Homo sapiens: one gene and its partner. The protein of the gene in region 1 interacts with the protein of each later gene in a pairwise test. Each region holds a gene or a part of one and is shown on either strand. Other genes may lie near its edges. The genes, in order: FAM47B and CARD10.

What was found.
Region 2: the proteins of FAM47B (region 1) and CARD10 interact in binary tests that used the Homo sapiens proteins (3 or more experiments, as listed by UniProt).

What each region holds. Positions count from the first base shown.
Region 1 is NC_000023.11:34,941,182-34,945,093, forward strand, and holds FAM47B (protein FAM47B), read left to right. Parts: upstream 1-1,614; 5' UTR 1,615-1,650; coding exon 1,651-3,588; 3' UTR 3,589-3,734; downstream 3,735-3,912.
Region 2 is NC_000022.11:37,517,733-37,521,644, reverse strand, and holds the start of CARD10 (caspase recruitment domain-containing protein 10), read left to right. Parts: upstream 1-2,229; 5' UTR 2,230-2,444; coding exon 2,445-2,679; intron 2,680-3,536; coding exon 3,537-3,674; intron 3,675-3,912. UniProt on the Homo sapiens protein: Scaffold protein that plays an important role in mediating the activation of NF-kappa-B via BCL10 or EGFR.

The DNA of each region.
Region 1 (3,912 bases):
CTTTATTCACAGATGACATTATCATAAATATAGAAAATTCAGTGAAATCTACAAAATGCTCCTGAACATAATAAGTGAGTTTACCAAGGTTGTATGATACAAGATGGATATACAAAACTCAATATTTATATATGCTAACAACAAAAAATTGGAAATTGCAATTAAAAAACAATACTACAGGCCGGGCGCGGTGGCTCATGCCTGTAATCCCAGCACTTTGGGAGGCCGAGGTGGGTGGATCACGAGGTCAGGAGATCGAGACCATCTTGGCTAACACGGTGAAACCCCGTCTCTACTAAAAATACAAAAAGTCAGCAGGGCGCGGTGGCGGGTGCCTGTAATCCCAGCTACTGGGGAGGCTGAGGCAGGAGAATGGCATGAACCCGGGAGGCGGAGCTTGCAGTGGGCCAAGATAGCGCCACTGCAGTCTGGCCTGGGCGAAAGAGCGAGACTCCGTCTCTTAAAAAAAAACAAAAAAAAACAAAACAAAACAAAAAAAAACTACATATAATAGTATGAAAAACAATATTTAGGGAAAATCTGGAGAGAAAAAGATTTGAAAGACACATACACTAAAAAATAAAAAATATTCCCGAGAAAATGAAAAATCACATAAACAAATGGAAAGATGACCTTCCTCAGTGGTCAGAACATTTCATATTGGTAATATGCCAATTATCCTCAAATTGATCTATAGATTCAACAGAATCCTAATCAAAATCCAAACAGGACTTTTTCTAAGACATAGACAAGCAGATTTTAAAATTTCTATAGAAATTCAAAGGACCTAGAAGAACCAACTTTGTAAAAGAACATTGTTAAAGAATTAGTACAGCCTAATTTCTAGATTTATTATAAAGCTAGAGTAACCAAGATAGTGTGAAATTTGTGTGAGAGAAAAATCAATGGAAGAGAAAACAGTGCCCAGAAATTGACCTTCAAATAGACAACTGATACTCTACCAATTTCCGAATGTAATTCAGTGGAGAAAAGATTGTCTTTATAAAAATAGTTCTGAAATTATCAGATATGCGTAAGCAATAGGTACATTTTTAAAATAAAAACTTTGATCTATATCTTGTGCTGTTTACAAAAATTATAGCATTTAAATGAAAAAAATCTTTGTGACCTTTGGATAGGCAAAGTTTTTCATAGATACATCAAAAGAAGCACAATCCGTAAAAGAACAAATTGATAAATTGGACTTCATCAAATTAAAAAACTTCTCTTTGACACAGACAATGAAAGAGCAAAGCCAAGGATGAAGTGAAAAATTTGCAAATCATGCATCTGATAACCTATTTACATCTAGAACACAGCAAGGATTCTCAAAACTAAATATGATATCCAGCAACACAATTTAAAAATGGGGGGAAAATCCACAGAAACTTCAACCAAGGGGAGATAAGGATGGCAAATAAGCAAATATAGAGATGTTCAATATCAGTAGTCATTAGGAAACGCAAATGAAACCCAGAATGAGATTCTACTACACACCTGTTAGAATCCGGGCTGCGCAGGTGGCGTCAGCGCTGCCCCACCTCCAGGAAGGAACCTGGGCTGCGTGTGGCTGGCGGTCTCCTAGCGACTAGAGCGGCAGGGATCTGGAACCTCAGAAGCTGGAGAGGTGGCACAACAGAGAGGGCCACCATGGGGGACCGGAGGCCACAGGACCGGCCAAGGTCCCAAGGCATGGACTCCAAGCCCTGGTACTGTGACAAACCGCCTTCCAAGTACTTCGCGAAGCGCAAGCACAGGCGCCTGAGGTTCCCGCCTGTGGACACCCAGAACTGGGTATTTGTGACGGAGGGCATGGACGACTTCCGCTACGCCTGTCAGTCTCCTGAAGATACGCTTGTTTGTCGCCGTGACGAGTTTTTACTCCCCAAAATATCTCTCAGAGGTCCCCAAGCTGACCGCAAAAGCAGGAAGAAAAAGCTGCTCAAGAAAGCGGCCCTATTTTCCGAGCTCTCGCCAGTACAGCCAGCACGGAAGGCGTTCGTAGAGGAAGTGGAAGCCCAGCTGATGACCAAGCATCCCTTGGCCATGTACCCCAATCTGGGAAAAGATATGCCTCCAGATCTCCTACTACAGGTGCTGAAACAGCTGGATCCCGAGAGGAAGCTGGAGGACGCTTGGGCTCGTTGTGAGGCCCGGGAGAAGACAACCGAGGTACCCACCGAGTCTGGTAAATATCCCTGTGGGGAATCCTGCCCGCGGCCTCCCGAGACTCCGGTGTCCCGTCTCCGTCCTCAGCTTCCCAAGACTCCGGTGTCCAGTCGCCGCCCAGAGCCTCCCAAGACTCGGGTGTCCAGTCTCCGCCCAGAGCCTCCCAAGACTCGGGTGTCCAGTCTCCACCCGGAACCTCCAGAGACTCGCGCATCTCATCTCCGCGTGGATCCTCCCGAGACTGGAGTGTCCCATCTCTGCCCAGAGCCTCCCAAGACTCTGGTGTCCAGTGTCCACCCAGAGCCTCCTGATACTGGAGCGTCCCATCTCTGCCCGGAGCCTCCCGAGACTCGCGTATCTCATCTCCACCCGGAGCCTCCTGAGACTGGAGTGTCCCATCTCCGCCCAGAGCCTTCCAAGACTCAGGTGTCCAGTCTCTGCCCGGAGCCTCCCGAGGCTGGAGTGTCCCATCTCTGCCTGGAACCTCCCAACACTCATCGGGTGTCCAGTTTCCTACTACAGGTGCTGAAACTGGATTCTGAGAAGAAGCTGGAAGACGCACGGGCTCGTTGTGAGGGCCAGGAGATGACAACCGAGGAACTCACCAAGCCTGGTAAATACCATTTTTGGGAATCCTGTCCGCGGCCTTTTGAGAGTCGGATGCCCCATCTCCGCCTGGTGCTTCCCATAACTCGTCGAATGGCCAGTCTCTGCCTGAAGCCTCCCAAGACTCGTCGGGTGTCCAGTCTCTGCCCGGAGCCTACCAAGACCGGAGCGTCCCATCTAAAAGAACTGTTTCAGGAAGATACACCAAGCACAATGGAGTGTGTTTCTGACTCTCTTCAACGTAGACACACATCGAGAAAACTCCGTGACTTCAAGTGGGCTGGAGACCTAGGAGTTAATGAAGAATCCATCAGCAGTCTGTTTGACTTTACCCCTGAGTGCAGAACAACCGATCAAGACCAAAAGATTAAGAAGGCAAACGAGTGTGCTTCAAGGCTGATGTACGGCATGGAGCTAGACGACATGGATGAGGTCGAATTCTTACGGATAAAATACTGGGACAGGAGACGCCGGGCGGCACCGCATTCTTATAGTGCACAGCGTGGGAGGATAAGGTATGGACCATGGTACTTCGAGCCTAAGTTGGGGAAAAAGCTAAGAAGTGATGAACCTTTGATTGACCCCAAGCCCGTACTTGAAAAGCCTGATGAACCCGACATTCTTGACGGTCTTTATGGACCAATTGCCTTTAAGGATTTCATTCTAAGCAAGGGCTACAGAATGCCTGGCGTCATTGAAAAGCTGTTTGCCAAGAAGGGATGGACTTACGACTCTGTTAAGACTCCTATTCAACGTGCAGTGCAAGTTTACAAGTACAAAGAAGACGTCACAGATGCATCAAAAGAAGATTAGATGGTTTTCAATTTACTGCTTAATTGGGTATTTCTTGCTCTCATTCTAAACATCAATCAGAATTTATGATGACTGGCCCCGTGAATGTACAACTTTGGCAACATCTGTAAATTCAATACCCAATGCTTATAAATATGTCTTAATGACCTGCTTTGGCCTCATTATTTCATATATTTTATCAATTATGTGATTTATATTCACATATACTTTTTTCACATTGTTGAAGCATTGTGAATATTACATCATCCTTTCAATTATTTGTAAAAATACATACAACCAGAAACAAAAGCAGAATTAATATTAGAAAGAGAAGTGGGGTCGGGT
Region 2 (3,912 bases), on another chromosome or scaffold:
CCCTGGTACAAAGTCTAGATTCTCGGTGTCCCTGCTGTAGTCCCTGCCCGCCTTCCTGGCATAGCTATAGAGAGAAGATGAATGTAGCAGAACTCACAAGAGGACAATAATGAACATGGTACCTAATCACACGCTTGCACACTCGGTGCTATGGACGCCCGGGGACAGGGGAAAGATGAGGAGGCTCAGATGTTTGTGGGGAAGTGGGTACGCCCCTGTCTGCCTCCTGCCTGGCTTGATGCCCACAGTGGGTGGGTGTGTATGTGTGCATGTGTATGTGATGGTGCGTGTGCATGCCTGTATAATTGTACATGTGAATGTGGGAGTGTGGTACCCAAAGGAACTCTGTCGCTTCCCCTGGAATGCTGGGCACCAGGGGCACTCGGTGTACCCAGCTACCTGCCTGTTCAGACCCAGTGTGCCCTCACTTCTCTGTCCACTTATCTGCAGAGACCTCTTGGCTTCTGTGCCTTATCTTTAGGCCCTGCTTAGCTTCTCGATGAAAAAATAATTAACCATAGCCTCATTTTCCAAGGCGTCCATCCCGCTCTGCTGGCCAAGTTAAAAATATTCACGAGGAGTAGGGCTGCTGGTGGGAGGAGCTGCCGCTCTGCGTGGGAGGGCAACCAAGGCCACAGAGAGGGGAAGGACGTATTGAAAGGGAGGTCTGGTGTGTGCCTGGACTCGGGGCTTGGAGAGGACAGAGGCCAGGGGCTGGGCTCCGGCCTATTCCCATTGTGGCCTCGCTGTGTGAATTTGGGCAAGTTCCTTGCCCTCTCTGAGCTCTGCTTCCTCCTTTGTTAATTGAGGAATTTGCACTAGAATTCAGTTCTCCCAAAGCATTTCTTCTGCATGTAAACAGGTGACACCCAAAACAAAAACAAATGTACAACAAATGCAAACCAAAAAAAGGCTGTGGTTAATTAAGTTTGGAAAAGGACACCAGGATATATAAAGTTAAATCTGTTTCTTTACTGCTGGGGCTTTTTTTTTTTTTTTTTTTTTTTTTGAGGGGGAGTCTCATTCTGTTGCCCGGGCTGCTGGAGTGCAGTGGCACGATATCACTGCAACCTCCGCCTCCTGGGTTCAAGCGATTCTCGTGCCTCAGCCTCCCGAGTAGCTGGGATTACAGACGCGCACTACCACGTCTAGCTAATTTTTATATTTTTAGTAGAGATGGGGTTTCGCCATATTGGTCAGGCTGGTCTCGAACTCCTGACCTCAGGTGATCCACTCGCCTCGGTCTCCCAAAGTGTCGGGATTCCAGGCATGAGCCACCGCCCCCGGCCTTAATTTAAGCAGGGCTTTTCAGAGCCTTTATTGATTGAAACCTTAATTCTTTGGATAAGTAATACATATGTCCACGGCATCTAATTCAGAAGTTGTGGAAGGCGATTAGGGAGCTCACACCTCTTTCCTGTACCGGTTGTGCCTCCTCTGTTCCTCCCTGGCAGCAGGTACCTGGCAGCTTCTAATGCATAGCGAGACTGTATCGCATGCACCAGCAGATACCGTGTAGACTCGGCCAGTATCATGGTAAGACACCACCGGCCTCCCAGGCAGGAGCGGGAGTATGGATGGCTAGTCACAGCCCGCCCCCAGCATCTCTGGGACCAACACCTGGAGGAATACCCTTTGAGAATTGTGGGGTCCCTGGTCCTCAAGTGCCACGGGAGTTTGCGTAAGAGGGGAGTTGGCAGTGCTGCCCTGCAGGTTCAGACCCCCATCTTGCAGAAAGCCCCCATGACCTCTGCCCATTGCTGTCCCCCGCGGGGCTGTCCTGCGCTCCAGGGAAGCTCCCGCGCCCGCAGTGCATGTGGGGACCCGAGAAGGGCAAGCCCAGCTTGAGTGCCCGCGGGCTGCGCCGGGCGTGAGCGGCTAGCCCCGCACGGGCGGGCGCGCTGTGGGCGTGGGGAGGCGATGCGCGTGGCCCGGGGAAGGTGTGTCGCGGCGCGCGGGGGGTGTGAGCGCGCCTGCCCGCCCCCGCCCCGCCCAGAGGCCGGGCAGGTGTGGGCGGGCGGCCAGGACCCCGCCGAGCCGGGCTGGAGAGCCGGCGGGAAACAGGAAGCAGGGGGAGGCGCAGCCGGACGGCCGGGAGGGAGGGCGTGCAGACGGACGCGCGGGGTGGCCGGGGGCCGGACGCACGACCCGGGGCGGGCGGCAATGTGGGGAGGCCCGGGCAGCCCAGGAGGCTGCGGGGACGGGGGCGGAGCCGGGGGCGCCACGGGCACCGCCCCCCTGCGCCGGCGGAGCCGCCGCCCGAGTGCGGACCCGGGAGCCCGAGGCGACTGTAGCGTGCGGGGTGAGTCGCGGGGAGCTCGGGGCGCGCCCCCGACGGCGGGTCTGCGGACGACGCCCCGGGGGTGCTTGGCCGCACATCTAGCCCTAGGGAGCCCTGGTCGACCCCCGTGCGCCTCTTGCCCGCAGACCCTGAGGACACGGCCATGCCGGGCCGGGCGGAGGCGGGGGAGGCCGAGGAGGAGGCCGGGGCCGGCTCGGGGTCTGAGGCGGAGGAGGACGCGCTGTGGGAGCGAATCGAGGGCGTCCGGCATCGGCTGGCTCGCGCCCTGAACCCGGCCAAGCTCACGCCGTATCTGCGCCAGTGCCGGGTCATCGACGAGCAGGACGAGGAGGAGGTGCTGAGCACCTACCGCTTCCCGTGCCGCGTCAACCGCACCGGTGAGCCGCGGGTCCCGAGTGGGCCACGACCTGGGCCGGCCGTGCCCTGGGGCGCAGCGCCCACAGCCGTGTAGCGCGAAGCTAGGGCTCTGCTGCCCTGGGGCTCGGTCTCCGCATCAGTAGAGTGGGCCGGCTGGGTATGCCCACCAGCCTGCCTCCTCCCCACCCACCACTGCGCCTTGGCGGTCCGCGTTGCCCACACCGGGGTCAGAGTTTTGTCTCTTGGGGTTCTCTCCCACTTCCTGGGTCCACATTAGAGCAGAAGGTTGGATGTGGCTGCCAGGGCCGGCTGGGCCTGGGACCTCCCGGTCACAGCCGGTGGACTTGGCACCTTTCCTGCGCTCTTTGATCTCCGAGTTCTGTCTGTCCCCTCCTCTGTGCACCATACACTCCTGGGGGAGTCCTTTTTCAAGTGTCAAGATCCGTCTCAGCTTTACGTGGGTCCCCACTCCCACAGGGTGTGCCTTTGAACCAGAACTCAAAAAGGCATGATGGAATGGTCTTTAATGGTGGAATTTCAGGCATGGCCAATGGGAGAAGTATTTTCTTTGCTTCTGGGGATAGAGGGGGCTTCTCTGTGCCATTGAAAAGGCAGGCTGCATTTGCGGGCCGGCATCTGTGTCTGTGGGGGGTGTTGGGGAGCTCTGGGAGCCCAGGAGTCATGAGGGAATGTGCTCCCCTGGCTGTGGCAGAATGGCTCTCTTCTCTTCCCTGATGTGTTGGGACAGGCCCCTGTGTGTGTCACTGGCTCAAAAATCTGGGGAACGTGGGCCTGGAGCATGGTGGGGGCAGAAGCAACCAGGCACCTGGGGAGGCCTTCCCCTAGACCCTGGGTACATCCCCCCACTACTCTGTAGGGCGCCTGATGGACATCTTGCGCTGCCGTGGCAAGAGGGGCTATGAGGCCTTCCTGGAAGCCCTGGAGTTCTACTACCCCGAACACTTCACGCTGCTCACGGGCCAGGAACCCGCCCAGCGCTGCTCCATGATCCTCGGTGAGTGGATCTGCGGTGGATGCTGGCACCTCGGACTCCAGTGCACAGGCTCCTTTCCCCATCCCTGTTAGGGAGGCGCTCCCACTATGCCTGTTGAACAGTAAGGGAAACTGAGGCATGGAGAGGCTGAAGGGGCTTGCCCAGGGCCCCACGGTAGGCTGAGGGTGGGGCTGGGTGCTAGTGCCGTTATTCCAAGTTCAGAGCCACATGCTTAAGATGGCTCTTTCTTCGTGATACT